2 linked regions of the Homo sapiens genome follow. The protein of the gene in region 1 interacts with the protein of each later gene in a pairwise test. Each region holds a gene or a part of one and is shown in the gene's direction. Other genes may lie near its edges. The genes, in order: CD200R1 and PTCH1.

Region 1 (16,880 bases):
TTCTTATTTTTTTCATTTTTTTAACTACAATATAGCAACTTTTCAAAAACAAAATTTGAAATAGATTAAAACTATTGTGATTGTGAAAAACTCTACAGAGCTCAAGGGAAGGAATGCATGTTGATCTCAGAAATTATGGAATTAGAAAGTTGAACTAGATGAGGGCTCTCATCTCTGTTCCTCTCCTGCTTCTGCTTTAGTTACTTATTTATATTAATTTTAACTGACACATAATAATTGCACATATTTATGGGGTACATAGTAATATTTTGATACATACAATTTGTAGTAATCAGATCATGGTAATTGGCATATCCTTCACTTCAAACATTTCCTTGTGTTGGGAACATTCAATATCTTCTTCTAGCTCTTTGAAAATATGTAATATATTATTGTGAACTATAGTCATCCTACAGTACTATAAAACAATAGAACTTGCTCATCCTACCTAGCTATAATTTTGTGCCCTTTAACAAATTTCCTCTATTCCCCCCTTTCCCTTACCCTTTGTAGTCTATAGAAGCCTGTGTTCTGCCTTTTACTTCTATGAGACCAACTTTTTTTAAACTTCTGCATAGAATGAGAACATGTGATGTTTGGCTTTTTGTTCTTGGCTTATTTCACTCAACATAATATCCTCCGGTTCCATCCATGTTGCTGTGAATGACAAGATTTCATTTTTTATGGCTGAATAGTATTCCATTGTGTATATATACCACATTTTCTTTATCCATTCATTTGTTATTGGGCGTTTGGGTTGATTTCCTGTCTTGGCTATTGTGAATATTGCTGTAATAAACATAGGGGTGCAGATAGATATTTCTTTAACATATTTATTTCCTTTCCTTTGAATAAATGTTTACGAGCAAGATTGCTGGATCATATGACATTTCTATTTCTAATTTTTTTAGGAACTTCCATACTATTCTTCATAGAGACTGTATTAGTTTACATTCCTATCAGTGATTTATAAGAATTCCCTTTTCTTTGCATCCTCACCAACATTTATTTGTGTCTTTTTGATAATAGCCATTCTAACTGGGGTGAATGATATCTCCTTGTGATTTTAATTGACATTTCCTTGATGATTAGTGATGTTGAGCACTTTTTCATGTATTTGTTAACCATATGTATGTCTTCTGTTCAGAAATATCTGTATCAATTACCCATTTTTAAGTTAGTTTTTCTGTTATTGTGGAGATATTTGAATTCCTTGTATATCTGGATATTACTCTTTTGTTGGATGAATATTTTACAAATATTTTATCCCATTCTGTAAGTTTATTCATTCTGTTTATTGTTTTGCTGTGCAGAAGGTTTTTAGTTTTATATAATCCCATGTGTTTATTTTTGCTTTAGTTACCTATGCTATTGAGGTCTTATTCTTAAAATTATTTCTCAGATCAATGTCCTGAAGTATTTCATCGGTGTTTTCTTCTAGCAGTTTTATAGTTTCTGGTCTTATATTTAGGTCTTCAATGAATTTTGAGTTGATTTTTGTATGGGGTGAGAGGCAGGAGGTCTAGTTTCATTCTTCTGCATATGAATATTCAGTTTACCCAGCGCCATTTATTAAAGAAGGTGTCCTTTCCCAAATGTATGTTCTTGACATCTTTGTCAAAGCAGTTGACTGTATATATGTGGACTAATTTCTGGGTTCTCTATGCTGTTCCATTTTTCTATGTGTCGGTTTTTATGCCAGTACCATGCTGTTTTGATTAGTACAGCTTTATGGTATATTTTGAAGTCTGTTAGTGTGATGCCGCAGCTTGTTTTTTTTTTTTTTTTGGTTTGTTTGTTTTTTGCTCAGTATGGGCTTTGGCTGTTTCGGGTCTTTTGTGGTTCCATGTAAATTTCAGGATTTTTTTTCTATTTTTGTTAAATGAAATGACACTTCATTGGTATCTTGATAGTAATTACATTTATTCTGTAGACTACTTTGGGTAGTATGGGCATTTTAACAATATTAGTTATTCTAGTCCATGAATATGGGATGTCTTTCTATTTTTTGTGTCTTCTTAAATTTCTTTCTGCAGTGTTGTATGGCTTTACTTGCAGAGATCTTTCATCTCCTTGGTTAAATTCATTCGTAGATATTTTATTCATTCATTTATATATTTTTGTAGCTATTGTAAATGGGATTGCTTTCATGATTTCCTTTTCATCTGGTTTGTTGTTTGTGTATAGAAATGCTACTAAGTTTTGTCTATTGATTTTGTATGCTGCAACTTTATTGAATTTGTTTATCAGTGTTAACAGTTTTTTGGTGCAGTCTTTAGGGTTTCTCTATATAAGATAATTTTATCTGGAAACATGGACAATTTGACTTCCTCCTTTCTAAATTGGATGTACTTTACTTATTTATTTTTCTTGCCTAATTTCTCTGGGCCAGACTTCCAGTACTATCTTGAATAACAAGGGTGAGAGTAGGCACTTTTTCTTCTAATTCTTCTTCTAATTCTTAAAAGCTGAAAGCTTTTCCCCATTTAGTATAATATTAGCTACATGGCCTATAGATGGCCTTTATTGTGTTGAAGTACTTTCTTCTGTACCTAATTTATTGAAAGTTTTTAGTGATGAAGGGATGTTGAATTTTATAAAATGCTTTTTCTGATCATATGATATTAAAATAATCACCTAGTTTTTGTTCTTCATTTTGTTGATGCAATGTATCACAAATATCGATTTGCATATGTTGAACCATCCTTGCATATCTGAGGTGAATCTCACTTGATTATGGTGCCTGATGTTTTTGATGTTCTGTTGAATTCATTTGCTAGTATTTTATATATATGTTTATTAGTAGTATTGGCTTGTGCTTTTCTTTTTTGCTGTGTCTTATCTGGTTTTTGTATCACAATCATGCTGGGCTTGTCAAATGAGTTTTGACATTCGATGACATTCAAATGAGTTTTACATTCAATTTTTTGGAATAGTTTGAAGTATTTCATCTGTGTATCAAGGACTGGTATTAGTTCTTTAAAAGTTTGGTAGAATTCAGCTGTGAAGCCATTTGTTCCTGGACTTTTCTTTGTTGGGAGACTTTTCATTACTAATTCAATCTCATTACTCATTATTGGACTGAGGTTTTCCATTTCTTGTTGGTTTAAAGTTGTTAGGTTGTCTGTATCCGGGAATTTTTCAGTTTTCTCTAATCTTTTGAATTTATTCATGTGTAGTTGTTCATAATAGTTTCTAATGGTCTTTTGTATTTATGTAGTCTCTGTTATTATGTCTCCTTTTTGTTTCTGATTTTATTAATTTGGTTTTTTCTCTTTTTTTCTTTATTCATCTAGCTAATGGCTTGTCAATTATGTTAATCTTTTTACAAACCCACAGCTCATATCATACTGAATGGGCAAAAACTAGAAGCATTCCCCTTGAAAACTGGCACAAGACAAGGATGCCCTCTCTCACCACTTCTATTTAACATGGTATTGGAAGTTGTGGCCAGGGTAATCATGCAAGAGAAAGAAACAAAGAAAATTCAAATAGGAGGAGAGGAACTCAAGTTATCTTTGTTTGCAGATAACATGATTCTATATCTAGAAAACCCCATCATCTCAGCCCAAAAGCTTCTTAAGCTGATAAGTAACTTCTGCAAAGTTTCAGGATCCAAAATCATTGTGCAAAAATTGCTAGTATTCCTATACACCAACAACAGACAAGACAAGAGCCAAATCATAAATGAACGCCCATTCACAATTGCCACAAAAGAATAAAATACCTAGGAAAACAACTAACAAGGGAAGTGAAGGACCTCTTTAAGAAAAACTATAAACTGCTGCTCAAAGAAATCAGAGATGACACAAACAAATGGAAAAACAGTCCATGCTCATGGATAGGAAGAATCAATATTGTGAAAATGACCATACTGCCCAAAATAGTTTATAGATTCAGTGCTATTCCCATTAAGCTACAATTGACATTGTTCACAGAATTAGAAAAAACAGTTTTAAAATTCATATGGAACCAAAACATAACCCAAATAGCAAAGGCAATTCTCAGCAAAAAGAACAAAGCTGGAAGCATCATGCTACCTGACTTCAAACTATACTATAGGGCTACAGTAATCAAAACAGCATGGTAGTTGTACGAGAACAGACACATAGACCAATGGAACAGAATAGAGAACCCAGAAATAACACCGCACACCTACAACTATCTTATCTTTGACAAACCTGACAGAAACAAGCAATGGGGAAAGGATTCCCTATTTAATAAATGGTGCTGGGACAGCTGGCTAGCCATATGAAGAAAATTGAAAGTGGACCCCTTCTGATATGGTTTGGCTGTGTCCCCACCCAAATCTCATCTTGAAATGTAGTTTCTATAATCTCCATGTGTCATGGGAGGGACCTGCTGGGAGGTAATTTAATCATGGGGGGCAGTTACTCTCATGCTGTTCTCATGATAGTGAGTGAATTCTCATGAGATTTGACGGTTTTATAAGGGGCTTTTCCTCCTTTTGCTTGGCACTTCTCCATGCTGCTGCCATGTGAAAAAGGACATGTCTGCTTCCCCTTCTGTCGTGATTGTAAATTTTCTGAGGCCTCCCAAGCCATGCTGAACTATGAGTCAATTAAACCTCTTTCTTTTATAAATTATCCAGTCTTGGGTATGTCTTTATTAGCAGCATGAGAGCAGAGTAAAACACCTTCCTTACATCATGTACAAAAATCAACTCAAGATGGATTAAAGACTTAAACGTAAAACCCCAAACTCTAAAAACCCTAGAAGAAAATCAAGACAATATCATTCAGGACATAGGCTCAGGCAAAGATTTCATGATTTCATGACAAAGATGCCAAAAGCAACTTCAACAAAAACAAAAATTGACAAATGGGATCTGATTAAACTAAAGAGCTTCTGCACAGCCAAAGAAACTATCAACAGAGTAAACAGACAACCTACAGAATGGGAGAAAAGTTTTATAATCTATTCATCTAACAAAGGCCTAATGTCCAGCATCTACAAGGAACTTAAACAAATGTATAAGAAAAAAAGAACCCCATTAAAAAGTGGGTAAGGAACATGAATAGATAATTCTCAAAAGAAGACATACATGCAACCAAGAAACATATGAAAAAAAGCTCAACATCACTGATCATTAGAGAAATGCAAATCAAAACTACAATGAGATACTATCTCACACCAGTCAGAATGGTGATTACTAAAAAGTCCAGAAACAACAGATGCTAGCGAGGTTATGGAGAAAAAGGAACACTTTTACACTGTTGGTGGGAGTGTAAATTAGTGCAACCATTGTGGAAGACAATGTGGTGATTCATCAAAGACATAGAGGCAGAAATACTGTTTGACTCGGCAATCTGATTACTGGGTATATACCCAAAGGAATATAAATAATTCCATTTTAAGGATACATGCACGTGTATGTTCATTGCAGCACTATTCACAATAGCAAAGACATGAAGTCAACCTAAATGCCCATCAGTGATAGACTGAATAAAGAAAATGTGGTACATATATACCATGAAATATTATGCAGCCATGTATAGATGAGTTCATGTCCTTTGCAGGGACATGGATGCAGGTGGAGGTGATTAGATTATCCTCAGCAAACTAATGCAGAAACAGAAAACCAAACAGTGCATTTTCTCACTTATAAGTGGGAGCTGAATGATAAGAACACATGGACATATGGAGGGTGGAAACACACACTGGAGCCTGTCAGAGGGTGGGGAGTGGGAGGAGGGAGAGCATCAGAAAGAATAGCTGATGGATGCTGGGCTTAATACCTCGGTGATGGAATGATCTGTGCAGCAAATCACCATGGCATACATTTACCTAATAAACCTGCACATCCTACCTATATACCCCTGAAGTTAAAATATTGCAAACAGAAAAAACAAAACTTTTTTGTTGTTGGTTTTTTGCATTTCTTTTTAGGTTCAGTTTCATTGAGTTCTGCTCTGATCTTTATTCCTCCTACTAATTTTGGGTTCAGTTTATTCCTGGTTTTCTTCCTTAATATGTGCTGTTAGGATGTTAATTTGAAATATTACTACTTTTTTGATGTAGGGATTTATTGCTATGGATTTGCCTCTTAATGCTGCTTTTGCTGTATCCCTTAGGTTTTGGTATTTTGTGTTTCTATTTTCATTTGTTTCAAGAAATTCTTAAACTTCTTAATTTCTTTCTTTACTCATTTGTCATTCAGGAACATGCTGTTTAACTTTCATGTATTTGTATAGTTTCAAATGTTCCTCTTGTTATTGATTTCTAATTTTATTCCATTGTGGTCACATAAGATGATATGATTGTAATTTTTAAAAATTATTTGAGACTTGTTTTGTGACCTAACATATTGTCAATTCTGGAGAATGTTCCATGTGCTGGTGAAAATAATGTGTATTTTGCAGCTGTTATATAAAATGTTCTGTAAAGGTCTGTTAGGTCTGTTTGATTTATGGTGTGGTTTAGATCCAATGTTTCTTGATTTTCTGTCTAGATCATCTGCCTAATGCTGAAAGTAGGGTGTTGAAGTCCCCACCTATTATTGCTTTGAGGTTTATCTCTCCCTTTAGCTTTAATAATATTAGCTTTATATATCTGGGTGCTCCAACATTGGGTCCATATATATTTCCAATTGTTATGTCGTCTTGCTGAATAAATTCCTTTATTTTTACATAATGTTCTTTTTTATATAGCCTTTGTCTTAAAGTCTGTTTTATCTAATGTAAGTATAGCTACTCCTGCTTGTATTTGGATTCTGTTTGCATGTCTTTTTTCCACTCCACTTTCAGTTTATGTGTGTCTTTACAGGTGAGATGAGTTTCCTGTAGGTGGCATATAGTTGGTTTTTTGAGATGGAGTTTCGCTCTTGTCACCCAGGCTGGAGTGCAATGGCATGATCTTGGTTCACTGCAACCTCTGCTTCCCCGGTTCAAGCAATTCTCCTGCCTCAGCCTCCTGAGTAGCTGGGATTACAGGTGCCCGCCACCATGTCCAGCTAATTTTTGTATTTTTAGTAGGGATGGGGTTTCATCATGTTGGCCGGGCTAGTCTCAAACTCTTGACTTCAGGTAATGCACCCTCCTTGGCCTCCCAAAGTGCTAGGATTACAGGCGTGAGCCACCATGCCCAGCTGGGTCTTATATTTTTAAATCCACTTGGCCAGTCTATATCTTTTAATTGGGAAATTGAATCCATTTACATTCAAGATTATTTGATAGATGAGAACTTACATCTGTCATTTTATTGATTTTTTTTTTCTGCTTGGTGACAGTCTTGCCTTTATTTCTGAAGGATAGTTTTTCTGGATATAATATTCACTGACAGTTATTTTCTTTCAGTACTTTGAATGTATCACTCCATTTTCTCTTGGCCCATAAGGTTTCTGATGAGAAATCTGCTATCAGTATAAGGGGGATTCCCTTATATTTGGCTTGATGCTTTTCTCTTGCGTGTTTTTATCATTCTTCCTTTGTCTTTGCCTTTTGATAATTTGACTATAACATTCCTTAGAGAGGATGTATTTGGGTTAAATCTATTTGGGAAATTTTGAACTTCTTGGATCTGAATCTCTCTCTCTCTCCCAAAACTTGGAAAGTTTTCTGCTATTATTTTATTAAATATGTTTTCTGTGCCTTTTTCTTTCTTTTCTCCTTCCAGAATTTTTATAATGTGAATGTTTTTTGCTTACTGATGTCTCCTAAATCCTGTAAACTTTATTTTTTTAAAATTCTTTTTCTTTTTGTTTTTAAAATCCTCATGTATTATTTCAAAAGACTTGTCTTCAAGTTCAGAAATCCTTTCCTCTACGTTTTCTATGCTGTTGTTGAAAAATCGTATTTTTTATTTCATTCATTGACTTCTTCAGCTCTAAAATCTCTTTTTTTATGATAGCTATCTTTTTGTTGAATTTTTCATTTAAATCACAAATTGTTTTCCTGATTTTATTGAATTGTTTATCTGTATTCTCTTTTATCTCATTGAGTTTCCTTAAGATTATTATTTTGAATTCTTCTTCTGGCATTTCATATATTGCCTTATAATTGGTTATGTTACTGGAGAATTACTGGGTTGATTTGGGGGGTCTATCATATTTTCTTGCTTTTTCATGTTTGATGTGTTTCTATGTTGATACCTACATATCTGGTGCAATTGTCGCCTCTTCTAATTTTATGGTGTAGGCTTCTTAAGAAAAAGCTTATTTATATGTAATCCATTCTAGTGATGTTTGCAAGTGTCCCTATGACCTAGGTGGTGAGTTTGTGGCAGCAGTGGCACAGCTTTGCTGGGAGTTGGTTTGCCAGCCTGCTTTTCAGGTTATGGGTGCTTGTGTGCACATGGTGGGTTACTCAACTTGGCATCTGGCTTGCTGGGTTTGGGACTATGGGGCTCTTACTCTGGCCCTGGGCACAAGCACATGGTTGTTTGGCTATCCTCAGGGCATGTCTGCTAGGGGTGGACCCACTGGGCTGTTTCTTAGGTTCTGGAGTGGGTGGGCAGCCACTCGGCCAGTCTGGGGGCATGTCTGCTGAGAGTGGGCCCACCAGATTATTTCTTAGGCCCTGGGTACAGGTCCCCACCTGCTCAGCTGGTCTGTAGGTATGTCCACCAGGGGCATGCCTGCTGTGCTGTTTCTCAGTTCCTGGGGGTGAATGCACAATCTGTCAGTCTAGGGTTGTTCACAGTAGGGGCCCGCTGGCTGTTTCTCAGGCCCAGGACATAATCATGCAGACACTCAGCTGGCCTGGCTGAGTTTCCACTAGTGGTGGATCCACTGGGTTGTTTCTTAGGCTCTGGTTACAGGCACGGGGCCACTTGGTAGGCCTGGGGTTATATTTGCCAACAGTGAGCTTGTGGGGCTGTTTCTCAGCCGTGGATGTGACTGCTGGGCTGGCCTGGGGGGGATGTCCACTGGGAGTGGATCTGCCCTGCTGTTTCTCAGGCCCCAGTTGTGGGTATGGAACTGATATGTAGGTCTGGGGATGTGTCCTCTGGGAGCGACACCCTTGACAGTTTCCCAGATCCTGAGTGTTGGTGTGGGCTGCTGATTAGTCATGGGGGTGTATCTGCCACATGGAGGGCTCACAGGGCTATTTCTCAGGCCTTGAGTGAGGGCATGGGGCTGCTGGGGAGGCCTGGGGACATGTCTGTGGCCATGTTTGTTGGGGAGGAGGCACAGGACTGTTTCCCAGGCCCTGGGTGAGGATGCATGTACACTCAGCTGGCCTAGGGTTATGTCAGCTGCTGGGTCCTCTCCCCTTCAGGAGAGGGCATGCAGTGGTTTGGCCAGCTCAATGGCAGGTTTGTCCCGGGTAGGACTGCCAGACTGTTTCTCTGGCTGGAAGTGTGGGGAGAGGGGATTGGTTTCCCTACTGTGCAGGACCAGAGTCACAGCCAATCCTGAGCCCAGGCTCCATGCAGCAAATGTATAGCCAGCTGGTGGGCTGGAGAGGTACAGTGGCTACTAGTCCCCAGGACACGGTGTACTTCAAAAGTGGCTCTAGTCCATGGTGGCCCCTTGCTGCAGCAGCTTGGCTCACAGAGGGTGGGTGGGAGGTAGCAGGTGTACACATTGTGCCCCTTATCTGGAGCAGTGCAGCTGTATGAATTCCTGGTAGCACTCCACACTGGGCTCAGGGCTTGTGAGGACTGTGAAATTCTCTTGAAATAACTCTTTTCAGTAGCTATAGGGGCTGGTGGGGTTCTTCTGCTTATGTTTTCCCTGCAAGAGGAAGTCCCTCCTGAGCCTGGGCCAATCCAGGAAGAGGATGTGGAAGGATGGGGTGCCAGAGGCAGGGTGCTTTTATGCTTCCCTCCTGAGCTTCTGATGACCACGAGCTCCTCTCCACTACTTTTCTGCACTCCTGCACTCTCCCTTTGATACTCCAGTAGAATCTTAGCTGTCTATTGCTTGGTCCTTTCTTTTGGAGGAGATGTGCACCAGGGGCCTCTAGTCAGCCATCTTGCTGACATTTGCTTCTGCTATATTTTTCCCTTTGTACTCTAATAAGTAGAAAACAAAATGAGAAAGCAACAGAGATGGATGGCCCCTTCTCAGTTTTGCTTCTAAAATTCTTGAGAAAGGGCACTGCTGTATTAACCTGGGTGAAGTGCCCAACATTGGACCAAATAACTTTGATTGGGAAGTGGTAGCTGAAGAAAGGGATATAATTGGACCAGCTCATGTGAGATGCTCACGTAGACCAATCTCCCTGGCTGAGGAAGAAGGATGCAGTAGAGGCAGGTTTATCTTTTTCAAAATATTTCAAAACAAGGTGTATCACGAAAGAGAAATTATTGATTACTTAAGTATAATTTTCAGGATATTAACACATTTAGTCCCCTAATGATGGCATGACTTCTAATTTCTGTTTTACAATGATTTTTGTGTAATTTTAATTATGGTTAACTGATTGCCTATCATGTTGGATAAGACTTTGTGGAGGGATACTGGCTTCCACTCTGAGTACATAAAATTGATTTCATTTATTCTTCTCTAAATATTTTCTAGCTTCAAGCAGTTTATGTATGGATGAAAAACAGATTACACAGAACTACTCGAAAGTACTCGCAGAAGGTAATATGCTTCCTTACTAGTGGCCAGCACCTAGGGATGGAAAGTTGAACTTCCTTAGAAATATTAGCTAATGACCTGACTGGAAGCCAGCCTTATGACTACTTGAAGAACTTGGTGATCTGAGTACTGTGGTATGAGGGATCCTGAATGACCCAACCTCTAGTTGTTCTCCAAACAAGCCATGTTCTTGCTTGTCTCTGAACCTTTGCTAAGGTGGAGTGGCGGAAGGAGCATGGATTTAACTACCTCTCAGATCTATGTTAAAGTATTACCTCTTTCTTCATCTAGTTATGTACTTATTAATTTGCTGTGAAATGCAAGGGCTAGAGTACAAACCATGTAAGAGACAGGTGACACCAAAACAGGATAGGAAAGATGTTAAATGCAGGGTTTAGCAAAAACATCCTTCACCCACATAAAGGTTTGCCCCTCTATAGCTGATTCTGCTTATGCTATAGTGATGAAATCACTGACACTTACCTTTGTTAGAGGTGAGTAGTGACAAATACTTTGGTGGACTAATCACCTCTCAGTAAACCCTTACCAAGTCACTGACACATTGTGTCGATTTATGGGATGCATGAGGTTCTACGTTGGAAGATGCTTGTAGGATGCAGGGCTTAATTTTTCCTTTAAATGATGGACAACAGGGATCAACTTACGCCTTTAGTGTTGATAATTGGATTGAATATACAGAAATAAAATCTGTGAGCTAAGTTCACAGCTGAACTATCTGAAAGTGTATGTGTGACTAAATAGGAAGGAATGAAAACTCATCCAAAGGCTACATTTGATAATGTCATAAATTTGCAATAAAATATTTTTAATAAAAAATGTCTAAAGGGAAATAAATCGTTTTTTAAAAATTATATATCACACTATATTTTCACAAGAAATAAATATTTCTAAGCATCTCTTATCACAGGGCATTATCATTTTTCATTTTTATGGGATGGCTCAACTGGTGGAATAATAGTTTTTTTTTTTTTAAAGATCTGTGGGTTTCACTGACTTTGTGATTCTTTTTAAAAAAAAGAACTTAAAAAAATTTCTAGCTAGTTCAACCCAAATGCCATATTAGTTACTTTAAAAGAAAGCACTATATATTAATACATACCACATTTATGTTTGTCTGAAACAAAAACCTTAGAGATAGACTTTTTTGTGCTCACCAAAGCTGAGGAGGAGACAGCCACATCACTAATTGTTCCATTTTCTTTCCTGTGGCACATACATTGTATGATAAAGGCAATAGTCTCCACCACCTAAAGATTAGATGTAGAACATTGCCTTTGTTGTTTAATTTACAATTCTCTTTGTTTCTAGATATTAAAACTTCTCCATTAATATAAAAAATACTTTATTATATATCATATTTCTAATAATACATAATACAGGAGAAAATTGGTTAATCTCTAGATTGGGTTCAATATATTATTTATATTTTGAGAATTTTAATTTTTTATGAAGGTCTAATATTTTTGGAATAAGATCACCAACAAAGTTATGTTCTAGTGTAACTTCATATGTTGTGGATAAATGTAACACATGAAGTTCTTTATCAAGCTTTTCTTTTATCATTCTCTTTTCATGTCCAGTTAACACTTCATGGCCTGTAAAGATGGCTACAAATGCTGTGCTTTGTTGCCCTCCTATCGCATTAAGAAATTTGATCATAATAACATGGGAAATAATCCTGAGAGGCCAGCCTTCCTGCACAAAAGCCTACAAGAAAGAAACAAATGAGACCAAGGAAACCAACTGTACTGATGAGAGAATAACCTGGGTCTCCAGACCTGATCAGAATTCGGACCTTCAGATTCGTACCGTGGCCATCACTCATGACGGGTATTACAGATGCATAATGGTAACACCTGATGGGAATTTCCATCGTGGATATCACCTCCAAGTGTTAGGTAAGGAGCATCATATATTGAGGTATTTCACATCACCAGATTTGTGACGGAAACAAATGTCTCTCTGAATTCCATATGCTTTATGTGAAAACCGAAGCATTTTTTTCCCTCTTTCCTCTCTGCAGTTACACCTGAAGTGACCCTGTTTCAAAACAGGAATAGAACTGCAGTATGCAAGGCAGTTGCAGGGAAGCCAGCTGCGCATATCTCCTGGATCCCAGAGGGCGATTGTGCCACTAAGCAAGAATACTGGAGCAATGGCACAGTGACTGTTAAGAGTACATGCCACTGGGAGGTCCACAATGTGTCTACCGTGACCTGCCACGTCTCCCATTTGACTGGCAACAAGAGTCTGTACATAGAGCTACTTCCTGGTCAGTAATTCTTTTAGTTTTATTTTTTATTTTTTTCCATTCTTTTAAAAGAGTTAAGAAAAAAAAAGATGTGCAAATATATTTTGTTCGAGGATGCTCTCCCCACTCTTCATTTTTATCTCTTCCCTGACCAAAATAAAGAGATGAGTTGAGGAGAATAGTACAGACATTTGTTGTAAAAAGCCCTTTTTTAGAATGCAGTTTAATTCTACTATTAATGTTCACTTCTATGCTAGTAGTTAATTAGCATGAGTAGTATACTTTTAAAAATAATACTTATGGCTTATTGAAAGATAAAGTATACTTTGAAGCATGTAATTATGGTTCTATTAGAAGGATACATTTACTCAAAGTTGCTTTTATGAATTTTTAGTTTGTTGTAATTTTGTTTTCTGGACTTTTCATCATTGAATTTCTTAAATGTCTTATAATAACATCTATGATTCATTTAATCACTGTTTAGTTTATTTACTCTCTGCTCTCATCCTACTCTCATTTCTTGTTATTTAAAAACTATTAAATATCAACAAACATATTTAAAGTGCAATTGTTCTGTAAGGCTTCCTGAAAAACATTAGCTCTACCCCTGTCTTTCCAACCCAATTGCCATCTCCATTAAACTCCCCACAGGTAGGTACTTTCAAATTTTCCAGTGTTTCTTCTGGTAATTAGTGCCATTTTTATACAACATGCTCATACTGCTATTTCTTACTGTATCAAATTTAGACATTATGTAATCACAACTTCTTATGGTAGATGAGGATTTCACATTACCTTCTTCCTTTCCTTCAAACTTTAGTTGAGGTAATGCAATTTTTCATTAAATAGCCTATGTTCCCATCAATTTGAATATTTAAGTACTGTTAAGTGCTGAATCAAGAAATACACTCATGCTTTCTCTTTCAAATGACTTTTTTTCCTTGGACTTCATAAGTGCTTTACCTTTTTTGTTTCCTTAAGAATGTATGTACCTATCGTGAACTATCACTAAGCCTATTGACAAAACTAGAGAACCCCTTAGTAATATTTTCTACATGGTCAGATTTATTAGGTAATCTGTTAGTTCTATTTTTTCTCAAAGTCATTCCTTCTTGAGTTTTGGTATGTGTTTGGTCTAATCTCTCCTGATTGGCCTCTAGATCTGCTGTACAGCTATTGTCCTGGACACTCTCATTGCCTCAGTCCTCTACTTAGCCTGTGTCTATTTAATCTGAGTTTCTTCTGTCTTCTATACATTTGTTTGTTTTTAACTCTTTCTTTCATATATGAGACTTTTCTTCACTCTTTGGTAATCCTTGGGTATGGATTCATTTTGAAGTGAGTACTATATGAGCTACTTGGAAGCTCAACTAGTTAATGGTTGGATTTGTCAACTAGTTAGCTTCAGTTCAGTGAAAAGAAGCTGTGATTTTTTAATAACTAGAGATTTGTTATGTATCTGAAGGCCTTTTCTCTGGGGCTGTTCAGGCTCTGCAGAAATTAACTCAGCAGTTTCTGGCCTTGGAGAGATAAGCCTGACTACCAGTGTTTGGGAAAGGAGGGAGCAATATGTGTATGTGTGTGAGTGTGCATGTGAGTGTGCCACTGTTGAGAATCAGACTTCCTTTTATACCTCTCTTCAGTCTGGTATTTCATTCTCACCCTCCCTGATGTCTGGATCCTTGACTTTGGAGTCTCTCCAGTTCATCTTCTTTGGACCAATCTGCCAATCTCCCCTTTTTCTGCTAGTTGGGAAAGGTGTGCTACATAAAATGGAGCAGGAGACAAGGGAACCTGCCTGTTCTCAAGACAAAATTTCAAAGAAGCTCTCAACTTTTAGCCCCACACTTCACCCCTCCACATACTTCTTCTTCTATATTTGATGCTTCCTACTCTAGAGTTTTCCTGGAGTTTTGTGTATACTAAGGTTTGTATTTATTCTATGTTGTAAATCATTAGCGAGTTTTCTATTCATTTCTCACTTAAAAACAGTTCGAAATCTTTCATCTGTTCTTGTCTTCATCCTCTTCTCTTTGTCTTTGCAGATCTACACTAAAAAAAAAATTATTTTTACCAACATTTTAGTAAGTTTTAATGAGGGAGAAGAGAAAATCTCATGTGTTGAAACCACCTTTATTTATATCTATCATTTAAGTCATATGTGTAGGTTTTTTTGAGTTTAGCAATATTTACTGAAAAGAGAAGTTGTGCCTTGGTTATGTGTGAAATATCACCTTTCATATTACTATATGATGTCAGATTTATAGTGTCTCAGAATTGAAGGGAAATTCTCATTCAAATTCCTATGTACAGCAGGGATCTCCTTGATGTCTTCCTTGCACGGTGGATCTTCAGCTTCTGCTAGTACAAATTTAATGAGAGAGAGCTTAGTAGTTTGAAAGCAAGGGTTTTAAAAAATGTTGTTTTAAACAATGTAACCAAACATTTAATTTTCATATAACATATGGAGAAATTCAGTATTTAAAAACATCAACTGTGGAAGAAAGGTGGAAGGACCAGAGGCCAGCCTGCTCAGTCTCCACTTCATCTCCTCTGCTGCCCCTGAGCTATATTCATGCAACACCAGGAGCATAGTTTGCAAATCGTTGCCTCTCAGGCTGGCAATTCCTTGGTTGATTTGCACGCTTGTCAGATAGAGTTTTGTATTGCTGCCAGCAGCTAATAAATAAAGTTCCTGCTGTGTATTCATTTCAGTTTCAATGCCCTGGGAGAAAGATGACTTCAGAATTAGGGTTACTTTTCCAAGTATCTTCCTTACAATTGCCCATTTAGTTGGAGGGGAGAAACACTCTGCTATAACAGAGTGGTAGGAATTCACCACCAATGAATCTTTAAAGCAACAAAACCCTGATATAAGGTGATGTCTTGCTGAAAACTCTGGAGTCTGTATTGAAAAAGCAGTTTTATTTTAATAATTCTCAAACTATTAATGGGGCAGAAGTGTTGAAAATGAAACTACAGATATGAATTTCATGTATTGTGAGACATTATTGAATGATCTATATAGATAGATATGGATATAAATATAGATAACTTTATTTTTAGTAGACATTAATTTTTAGAGCAGTTTTAGGTTCACCGCAAAATTGAGTGGAAAGTACAGAAATTTCCCATATAAGCCCTGCCTTCGCCCATGTCCAACCTCTCCCACCTACACCTGCACCAGAGTGTTACATTTATTAGAACTGTTGAACCTCCATTGATACAACATTACCACCCAAAGTCCATACTTTACATTAGAGTTCATTCTTGGTGTTGTACATTCCATGGGTTTGGACAAATGTGTAATGACATGTATCCACCAGTACAGTATTATATGGAACAGTTTTATTGTCCTACACAATCCTCCTTGCTCTTTCTATTCCTCCCTCCTTCCTCACCACCAGATAATCAATAATTTATTGACTATTCCCCTAGTTTTATCTTTTCCGTAATGTCTTACAATTGGAATCATACAATATGTAACATTTCCAGATTGGCATGTTTCACTTAGTAACATACATTTGAAATTCCTCTATGTCTTTTTATGGTTTGATAGCTCATTTCTTTTTAACATTGAATAATAAGATAGTACATTATTTGGATTGTACCACATTTGAACCATATATTTTTGTGTCTATAGTTCCAGGTGCCAAAAAATCAGCAAAATTATATATTCCATATATCATCCTTACTATTATTATTTTGACCATCGTGGGATTCATTTGGTTGTTGAAAGTCAATGGCTGCAGGTATTGACTAATGAATGTTTTTTTCTTCTTCAGCTTTATTAGGCTAGAAAAGAGTCAGAAATATGGAACTGACCGTATTGGGTATATTAGGATGTTAACATCAAATCTCCCATAATCAAATCTTGAAGGTGTTAGATAGACTTGGACTACTTTGAATGATGAGAGAGACTTTGCTAGGTTGCTTTGGCATAGAAGCATGGAAAATTAGGCCATTTAGGGTAGGATCTTGGGAGAGAAAGTGCATGTTAATTTTCACATTTGGGTAAATAATTACAATTCCTTCATGCACCAAAGAGGAGATGTTACA
Region 2 (10,645 bases), on another chromosome or scaffold:
TCACTTTTTCACTTGTTGTTAGGATGCCCGGCACACTCACACAGCTTTACTCTACTCACCAAGAGTTCCTGCAGATGCGAGCAGGAAGAGAAATTGACCAGTCTTGCATCTGGTTTCTGTTTATATTTTGTCAATATGTTTAGCTCTTTCCTAGTCTTTCCATTTGTCATGTAAGAGGAACCAATCAATCACGTATTTGAATGTCATTTCGCTAGTAACCAAGAGGCCTGGGCAACTACTGATCCTACTGGGTTTGGGAATGGAGGCATCTTTAGTATTTAGTGTGAGGCACAGCTGGAGAAAAGATTCTATGCCAATTACCGTAACCGCCAGCCCCAAAAGAAACATAAAAAGAAAAGAAAACAGGGTTTATTTATATTATAAATTTATATAGAAGTAAAAATAGTGAATCAATGAATAACGTTCAGATCTGATGCTCGAACCAAAGCACAGGACAAGGAAACTCTCTCTGATTGCTCAGTGGCATGAAAGGTGAACCAGACTCGCAGTGCAGCTGAAGTTGTAGAATGCCTTTGTGCGCAGGTGTGTGTCTGCTCAGCACCCTGTGGTACCCCAGTCTCATTTCACGTGCAGCCGGTGCTGGTATTGAGAAACTGTTCTAGAGTCTTTTAGTCATGGGACCCTGTCTGCCCATTCTCTCTCCTCTCCCCTTCTTTTCTGCTTGCCTTTTTGCTCACTGTCTTTCTGTATCTGCTCATACTCCTTCTTTTCTTCTTTTCTCTCTCATTCTCTCCTCTCCTCTCTTAGTACATACTGATGGCTCATCGAGGCCGACTCTCCTTTAATGATACCCTGTGGTGTGGTGGTCTGAAAAGCTACATGAGGTTTCCTTACGAGGAGTAGCCTTGTAGAAAATCCAGTGCGCTAAATTCTCCCAAGGTAAGCACCTTACAGAGACAAAAATGAGTACTGTTGGTTTTTGTGTTTCTGTTTCAAAGCACCACAGTATCACTGTAGAAAATTGCAACTATAGCTTCCAAGAGTCCTCATCTTACTGAAGAATACCTCCTCATGACACTGGTTAATTCTCTGTCAAAAGAAAAAAGGAGTGCTTCGCACGGTGGCTCACGCCTGTAATCCCAGCACTTTGGGAGGCCGAGACGGGTGGATCACGAGGTCAGGAGATCGAGACCATCCTGGCCAACATGGTGAAACCCCGTCTCTACTAAAAATACAAAATTTGCCGGGCGCGGTGGCTCACGCCTGTAATCCCAGCTACTCGGGAGGCTGAGGCAGGAGAATCGCTTGAACCCGGGAGGCGGAGGTTGCGGTGAGCTGAGATCGTGCTATTGCACTCCAGCCTGGGTGACAGAACAAGACTCTGTCTCAAAAAAAAAAAAAAAAAAAATAGGATAGAAAATGCAAAGAAAAGAGAGAGTGTGCAATGATTTTTGCAGTGGCCATCAGAAAATTTTCCCTGGTTCTCTTTTAAATGTATTGACCCTCAAAATTGGCCATTATGTAGCTTCTCTTTCCATTGATGAACAGTATCAGGTTTGACTCTGGGTGTTCAGTTGTGTTTATATTTGCAAGATGCTACAGATTAAACATCAAAAGGGAGTGACCCAAGGCGGTTCTGTCCAATAGTAAACCTGCGTTACCTTCAGAATTTTCCATATAAAACTCCTCCAATTTTGTAGCCTGACCAAATAATTAGATATTTTTTTCCACAAGGAAACTGTCTTAAACCTCATCAGCCTTTATCCATCTGCCTAAATGCCATCTCTACACCAGAAATCACTGGCATCAGCTGTAATTCTTTGTAATTAACTAGGGCTTGCTGGTAGCCCAGTAGTGTTTATTCTTCAATGAAAACTCACAGAACAGAACCCCTTGTTGTTCTGTCTGGTCTAGGAGGGTTCAAGTGGAACCTCCTCTGCATGTGTCCCAGCCTTAGCTGCTTTGAGGGGATGGGGCATTTCCTATGAGTACAATAACTAGAATTGATTCACAGTTGCAGTATCATCCCCATCATCTTCTCTGGTTTACTTACACTCTCTTGCCTTTGCGACAACCCTTCTTGCTTTCTGAGCAGCCCTTGCTGGTTGTTTTACTATTTTGGTGTACACCTGGGGACCTGGCACTGAGAAAATACTCCGCCATACATGTAGTAGGTTATGAGAAAGTCAGTAAGATGGGACGCTGCTTGGGGTTCTTCCCTCATCCCTTCATTTCCGTCATGGACACGGAGCAAGGTGCCCAGCAGGCTTCTCTGACCGATGAGGCCGGCTGGTGCCCATGCCTGTGCCCGTGGGGCTCCCTGTGTCACGAACCTCTGCTCTCCTCATCCTCATGAACACCTGTCCAAATTGGGATGCCCAGGGTCTCTTCTCTACATTCCACTCCTCCATTCTAAACATGACTGATTTTAAAAGCTAAAAGGATTCGGCCCCCAGGATGACATCTGGAAAATCTCCGTTAGAATCCTACCTGTTCTTCCTGCCATCCCCTGCTGTCTCACGGTCAGGTGTCCTAACCCCGTCCACAGACGTCCTCTCAGTAAGGGACCAGATCTCACAAAACTCCCGGTTCTCAGCTGAGCTAGGGGCTTGGCATCAAGTCTTTGTTTGATCTGATTTACTGGATAACCTCAGGCAGGTGACTTGACCGCACTTCGGGGACTTTATCAGGTAATACTGTCAAGAGCAGTGAGAACCTCCTGTTTGCTATGAATCAGGTATGAACGATCTGATCTTCATAGCTTCTCCTTTCTCTTCCCCAAAGTGAATTTCAAACCCCAGCAGTACTGAGGTGCTTGAGCCAGGTGTCTCCTCTTGCACACTCTGTGTTTTTTTCACAGGGAGCACCTGCCATTCCCCTGCTCCTGACTGATCTCTTTTGCTTTTCTTTTTTGAGACGGAGTCTCACTCTTGTTGCCCAGGCTGGAGTGCAATGGTGCGATCTCGGCTCACCACAACTTCTGCCTCCTGGGTTCAAGCAGTTCTCCTGCCTCAGCCTCCCGAGTAGCTGGGATTACAGGCATGCGCCACCACGCCTGGCTAACTTTGTGTTTTTAGTAGAGATGGGTTTCTCCATGTTGGTCAGGCTGGTCTCGAACTCCAACCTCAGGTGATCTGCCCGCCTCGGCCTCCCACAGTGCTGGGATTACAGGCATGAGCCACTGTGCCCGGCCCTCTTTTTCATCTTATAAACCCTGCTGAAGCCTCTCCCGGGAAGCCTGCCTTGACTGACCACCCCTCCACCCCACTGAGCTGCTCTGCAGCCTGACACCTGCCTTCATGACGCCATCCATCATTCGAGATTGTCATTTGTGTATAGGTCTGGCTCTGTGAGAATTGAGAGTAGGATTTTGTCTTATTTATCTTTGTGTCTCCAGCACCCAGCACAGTACTAGACTTTTCTTTTTAAAAGATCTCTCTCTTTCTCAGGTAAATTCTCTTGTCACAGTGGTGATGAGCTTATTTGTGTAGGTCTATCAGACAGGTCTTAAATACATTAGAGTGGTAAGCTAACATGCTTCATATTTTTCAGTTGATGAAGGATTTTCAAGATAGACCAAGAAGAAAGAGGTTAGGTAGTTTTTAGAAGAACGCTCTTGAGAGGGAATTAATTATTGGAAGACATCTCTCCGGAACTCAGGCTTGCTGGTTCACCTTCAGCATAAACTCACAATTCCCATCCAAAGCCCTTTGTGGAAGTTCTCCCTGGATTGTGTTAGGTGGCAGTTATAGCCAGGTTTTCTTTCCTCACCCTAGGACGTTTATCAGTTTGAGATTTGTGAACTAAGCAGTTCTTTGAGAAGCCTCGTTTTTTATTTTCTTTCTTTCTTTCTTTCTTTTTTTTTTTTGAGACAGACTCTCACTCTGTCACCCAGGCTGGAGTGCAGTGGTGCAATCTTGGCTCACTGCAACCTCCATCTCCCAGGTTCAAGCAATTCTCCTGCCTCAGCCTCCCAAGTAGCTGGGACTACAGGCATGTGCCACCACACTCAACTAATTTTTTGTGTGTTTTTAGTAGAGACGGGGTTTCACCGTGTTAGCCAGGATAGTCTTGATCAGGAGATCCCTGACCCCGTGATCCACCCACCTCAGCCTCGCAAAGTGCTGGGATTATAGGCGTGAGCCACCGCGCCTGGCCTCGTTTTTTATTTTCAAAGCCATGTCTGGCAATTTCCTGGCTCCTCAGCATTGCCAGTGCTTTTCTCTGTGGTGCCCCTTCTGCCGTGCCCTTCCGAGCTGGGTCGACTTCCACCGGCTTCTGTTGGCTTCCCCTATTAACAGCCCAATTTTGTAATTTTTACTAGGTCAGCAGAAGATTTGCCAACGCACTGCAGAATTTAGCCCTGTGTTTATTCTAGGTTATGGAGTGACTTTTGAATCTGTACTTATTTATTCTGCGTACTATAATCACACACAGGAATTTCTTTCTGCTTAACTCTCCTTGACCTTTTATGTTTCTTGCTCTCACACCCCACAGGCTACTCCAGAGGCAATTTGGAATGTGCCTATTAAAACCTCAGGGGACACGTGTGAAATTGTATTTCACGTTTTAAAGGGGGACATTTTGATATACTCGATCCACTTTATATAAAAATGTTTAACTGTAAAATCAGGGTCGCGTGACCTCTTGGAAGCATTCTGGAAGGGAACTGCTTCTGTTTGTTTTAAATTCTATCTCGAGTGTGCTCTCTGTTCTGCCTTTGTGGATTTGGTTTGGTTAGGTTACTAGCAACACGTTAGTAGTTTAGTTCCCAGGTTTGTGCCTTATCGGTTTATGGAATTATTAGAGATAGAAAGGCCCAGAAACAGTCAAGACTATTCCTATCAAATAGGCTCTTGATGATGTAGCAAAAGAAACTCTTAACATCTGTCACGGTTTCAAATGCTTCAAGAGGAAAGGGAAAGAAAAATATTGTTTAAAAGCATCTTTATTTTCGAAGCAGTCCTCTGATTGGGCGGAGGCATGTTGGTGACCTCTGAATTTTTTTTCTGCTCCCAGGCAGCGGTAGTAGTGGTGTTCAATTTTGCCATGGTTCTGCTCATTTTTCCTGCAATTCTCAGCATGGATTTATATCGACGCGAGGACAGGAGACTGGATATTTTCTGCTGTTTTACAAGGTACATTTTCAGACTGCTGTGGCCTTTTGATTGGGTGCAGAATGGTGCTGTGAGAGAACTCTTTCAGCCTGTGGACTTATAAAGGAATGTGGGTAACGGGGTTTGTGCTGGTGTGGAGAACGTAGGGGAGAGATTGGACAGAGGCTGCTTCCCTAGGGGGACATCAGAGTCCCTGGGCTTCCTTCTCCCCTGCCGCAGCTGAACAGTCTCACAGCCCTCAAGATGCTGGTTCCGATGACCCCTTTTTCCATCATGAACTGATGTTGCCGATTGTAGGAATGTTTCATATCTCTGCATTAGAGCAGAACAAGATTGAAAAACACCCATCTAGAAAATATATAGTCCTTTGATGGTGGTTTGGTTTTGTTTGGAATTGTGCTTTGAAGGATTCATCATCATGGAACTTGCTTTTGAAAGCCAAATTTAGGATCAGTCCTCCATGTGGCCTCCTCAGACTGACTTTTATCTAGTTCACCAGGCGATGAACCAGGTGATGTTATCAACCAGGCGATGTTTCTGGAATTCAGCAATGTGATGTTTCTCTCCTAAGTCAGAGCTGTGTAAAATGGGTATTCTCCGTACACAGTGAAAAATGGCAGAATGAAAGCACCATTTCCCTGTTTCAGCATAACATTGCAACATGTTTCCCCTCCTTTCAGCCCCTGCGTCAGCAGAGTGATTCAGGTTGAACCTCAGGCCTACACCGACACACACGACAATACCCGCTACAGCCCCCCACCTCCCTACAGCAGCCACAGCTTTGCCCATGAAACGCAGATTACCATGCAGTCCACTGTCCAGCTCCGCACGGAGTACGACCCCCACACGCACGTGTACTACACCACCGCTGAGCCGCGCTCCGAGATCTCTGTGCAGCCCGTCACCGTGACACAGGACACCCTCAGCTGCCAGAGCCCAGAGAGCACCAGCTCCACAAGGGACCTGCTCTCCCAGTTCTCCGACTCCAGCCTCCACTGCCTCGAGCCCCCCTGTACGAAGTGGACACTCTCATCTTTTGCTGAGAAGCACTATGCTCCTTTCCTCTTGAAACCAAAAGCCAAGGTAATCTGCCACAACTTAAGGCTCTTCCTGTCTTCAAAAAAATAACAGAACCTTTGGAGTTCATCAGATTGCTTCTACTTTTCTTCTTTTTCCTTAAAAAAAAAAAAATTTCGTTTAAGTATGATACATTTCAGTCCTCCAAAAGTCAATGCTTTTAGAGCATAGGGCCATTTTAATGAGGTCATCTTCCATGGGAGTGAACCTCTATGCAGCAAGTCTTTTTATGAATGAGGTTGTTTAAAAATGTGATTATTGCCACTTGCGGTGGCTCATGCCTGTTAACCCAGCGCTTTGGGAGGCTGAGGTAGGAGGATTGTTTGAGCCAGGAGTTCGAGAACAGCCTAGGCAACAAAGGCCAACCCTGTCTCTACAAAATATTTTAAAAATTAGCCAGGGACAGGTGTGGTGGCTCACGCCTGTAATCCCAGCACTCTGGGAGGCCAAGGCCAGCGGATTGCTTGAACCCAGGAGTTCGAGAACAGCCCAGGCAACATGATGAAACTCCATCTCTACAAAAAATTGCCTGGGCATGGTGATGTGCCTATAGTCCCAGCTGCTTAGGAGGCTGAGGTGGGAGGGTCACTGAGCCCAGGGAGTCGAGGCTACAGTGAGCCGTGATGGTGCCACTTCATTCAAGCCTGGGTGACAGAGTAAGACCCTGTCTCAAAAGAGAGGGGGAAAAAAGGCATGGTGCTGTGTACCTGTAGTCCTAGCTACTTGGGCAGCTGAGACAGGAGGATCATTTGAGCCCAGGAGTTGGAGGCAACAGTGAGCCCTGATCATGCCACTGCACTCCATCCTGGGAGACAGAGTGAGATCCCAACTCAGATACATAACAAAACAAGGCTGGGCATGGTGGCTCACGCCTGTAATCCCAGCACTTGGGGAGGCCGAGGTGGGTGGATCACCTGAGGTCAGGAGTTCAAGACCAGCCTGGCCAACATGGTGAAACCCTGTCTCTACTAAAAATACAAAAAAAAATAGCCAGGCGTGGTGGTGCACACCTGTAATCCCAGCTACTTGGGAGGCTGAGGCACGAGAATTGCTTGAACCTGGGAGGTGGAGGTTACAGTGAGCCGAGATGGCACCACTGCACTCCAGCCTTGGCAACACAAGACTGTCTCAAAAAATTATATATAAAACAAAACAAAATAAAAATGCGATTACTATGATTTTATCCTTTTTCCTATGGGAGAACAACCCCTACAAGATAAATCAGTTTAAGTGTGGTGGTGAAAACAAGGTATTAACTAGACAGCTTCTCTTTGTCCAGGAAGAGTCAGTGGTGCTCCCTGGGGTCTGACCTTGTGCCTCTTCTGTTCCAGGTAGTGGTGATCTTCCTTTTTCTGGGCTTGCTGGGGGTCAGCCTTTATGGCACCACCCGAGTGAGAGACGGGCTGGACCTTACGGACATTGTACCTCGGGAAACCAGAGAATATGACTTTATTGCTGCACAATTCAAATACTTTTCTTTCTACAACATGTATATAGTCACCCAGAAAGCAGACTACCCGAATATCCAGCACTTACTTTACGACCTACACAGGAGTTTCAGTAACGTGAAGTATGTCATGTTGGAAGAAAACAAACAGCTTCCCAAAATGTGGCTGCACTACTTCAGAGACTGGCTTCAGGGTAAGACGGCGTGGGAGGCTCTCGTCCTTTCGGTCTTTTGCGTGTTCAGCTTCAACAGGTTCCTTTGTCATGATTATGAGAGCGTTAGATTAGAATGTAACACTGACGTGTTTCATGGACTTTTAAGAGTTGCTCAAGATTCTTACATGAACTGTTTCTGCAGCAGCCTCCCAGATCTGGCTTTTACCTATAAAATGATGCAGATAATTCAGATGAGCTTCTGTGAGAATGTACAAGTGCACGTCAGGAAAAGGGGAGCATGTTGTAACAGGTGGAGCCGAGGCTTCTGGTGCTCTTTCCTCTTGGATAGACGGTGGCTAGTTTGGTGACCACATAAAATCAAAGTGCGGCTGGGATTTCCAGACTGATTGCCAAATTATAGCTTACTGCACCAGGAGATGCTAGATAAGCAGTGGACATAGTCTTACACTCCATATTTTGACCATCTCTTTAAAAATTATCTATTTCTAATTGACTTTGTTTTTAGAGCAGTTTTAGGTTCCCAGGAAAATTGAGCAGAAGGTGCTGAGATGGCCCATATCCCCCTTCCTCACCCACACACAGCCCCCTCGACTGTAAACATCCCGCACCAGAGGGATGCATTTGTTACAGCTGATGAACCTGCACATTATTACCCAGGCTCCATAGTTTACGGTTGGGTTCATTTTGACCATTTTTTGATTTGGTACTTGAAGTAAAGTTATAAATGCTTAGTAACATTTCACATTATTTTATAAATAATTAAATTCTGTTTTAAAATGCCTTTCTTGGTGGGGCACAGTGGCTCACGCCTGTAATCCCAGCACTTTGGGATGCCAAGGCGGGCAGATCACCTGAGGTCAGGAGTTCGAGACCAGCCTGGCCTACTAGTGAAACCAGCTCTCTACTAAAAATACAAAAATTAGCTGGGCGTGCTGGTGGGTGCCTGTAATTCCAGCTACTCAGGAAACTGAGGCAGGAGAATCGCTTGAACCTGGGAGGTGGAGGTTGCGGTGAGCCTAGATTGTGCCATTGCATTCCAGCCTGGGCGACAAGAGCGAGACTCCATCTCCAAAAATAATAAATAAATAACAGTGCCTTTATTGGCTTCTTCACTCTTAGAAATGTTTCTAGGAAATATTCATCAGCTGGAGGGGAAAAAAAAGTCTAAATTTTCTCCTGACCGACTGCACGTAAATGTATGCAGTGATTCCAGGAACATCTGTTCATTTATTCTGCATTGACACATGCAAAGCCAAGTAGAGAATCAGGATAATTATCCACCCAATTCAAGCAAAACACTTTTACTGGAGTACCAAATCATTATGGCCCCCAACATTTTTTGGCTTGGATTATCCAAATGATTGTCTTAATTTCCCACTTAATTAGGCTTGTTTAAACACAGATGTAAGTGCCTTTTTTGGTCTGAAGTCAATACACTTGTATGTAAAGACTCAGCAGCCAGTTTCCCTGAGAGTTTGCAGGAAATGGTCAACAACTTGAGGTTGGTAGAGGATGGTTCCATACAGCTTCTGGCCTTGACTTGTGTTTACCAGAACTTTGTGTCTACATGTACACCCAATTTGACTTTCCTTTTGGAGGAAGGTACAGAGAACATGCCATGATTATTATTTATTAACACCCTCCTGAGACGAACGTGAATTTGTTCCAAGTTTTATTTTTCACATTTAGTTTAGAAAGCAATGGTTTTTGGGATAATGAGTTAAAAGAGAGACAGTGGAGAGAGTCCCTGCTTTCATTTTCCCCCCATTGACCAAAGACATATAAATAACTTGCCACAAATGACAAAGAGATCTGCTGTGCCCTGCCAGTCTGTGAGCAGAGAAGGGTTATTGTAGAGTGTATTTCAGTGTCTTTGGCCATTGCTCTGGAGGCTCAATGTGGCATGTTAGGCAGGGATTGGGAAGGGGGTAAAGGGGGATTGTCTCGAGGCAGTGCAAAGGGTTAACCTTTTTATAGAGCATTGTAGATCATCTCTATACGTTTCTTCCTTTATAGATGTAAATCAGCTGGAGTTGAGTTTTTTTTTTTAAGGTGCATTTGAATCATGTTTTGATTGCTGTGTGAACAGCATACACCTAGACCAAGTGAGATCCATTGGTGCTAAGCAATCAGGGTCCCAGGCAGCCCTGGGACTCCATGACTGACTCTTACAGGGTCCGCTAGAGCACTCAACACAGAATGACCAGACACTGGAGCCCTTTGCTGCCTACACGTTTTTCAGGCCTGTTGAATGGTTGATGTGGTGTTTGAACATTTTCTACAAGGAAACAATTATCCTTGAGTCAGCTTTCCTTGCTGACATTTTTGTGTGGCTTTTAAATGGTGGGAGCCTCATTGGTTTTTAATGGAATTCCCATTAAAACTATGTCATCTCATTGGTCTTTATCGACATTACAATAGTTTGTCTTTGATTTTTTTTACTCCTAAAACTATATAATGGTTAATTTCAAAACTATCCCACATGTCACATCTTAAAACATACATGCAAATAAGGCAGAGTCAGATAAAAACCATGCCTCGAGTCATGTACAAATGTGTTCATTTTTATTTCACACTGGATTATGCAAACAAAATTTTGATTAACATTTTACTTCTAGGGTCCCATAGCTGAAGGAAAATGGGCAATTGGGGTTATTCCTTTGGCCTAGAACTTTACATTAGAAAATAATTATTGACACAAAATATTCATAAGAGGAGAACTTCTAGCTAAGATATTAAGGTTTGCTGTAAAATAAGTAAAAAGTCACAATTTTCTAGAGTGTGCATGCATTGGAATATGAAGCACTGGCTAAAGGGCAGTGGAAACCCAACCTTATCCCTTGTTTTGTATCCAGGGTCGTACCTTG

The links.
Region 2: the proteins of CD200R1 (region 1) and PTCH1 interact in binary tests that used the Homo sapiens proteins (3 or more experiments, as listed by UniProt).

Annotation. Positions count from the first base shown.
Region 1 is NC_000003.12:112,924,778-112,941,657, reverse strand, and holds part of CD200R1 (cell surface glycoprotein CD200 receptor 1 isoform a precursor), read left to right. Parts: intron 1-10,486; coding exon 10,487-10,552; intron 10,553-12,150; coding exon 12,151-12,468; coding exon of another isoform or gene 12,469-12,515; exon of another isoform or gene 12,516-12,593; coding exon 12,594-12,842; intron 12,843-16,464; coding exon 16,465-16,573; intron 16,574-16,880. UniProt on the Homo sapiens protein: Inhibitory receptor for the CD200/OX2 cell surface glycoprotein. Limits inflammation by inhibiting the expression of pro-inflammatory molecules including TNF-alpha, interferons, and inducible nitric oxide synthase (iNOS) in response to selected stimuli.
Region 2 is NC_000009.12:95,464,267-95,474,911, reverse strand, and holds part of PTCH1 (protein patched homolog 1), read left to right. Parts: intron 1-4,892; exon of another isoform or gene 4,893-4,980; coding exon 4,981-5,099; exon of another isoform or gene 5,100-5,758; coding exon 5,759-6,161; exon of another isoform or gene 6,162-6,253; intron 6,254-7,465; exon of another isoform or gene 7,466-7,486; coding exon 7,487-7,796; exon of another isoform or gene 7,797-7,983; intron 7,984-10,645.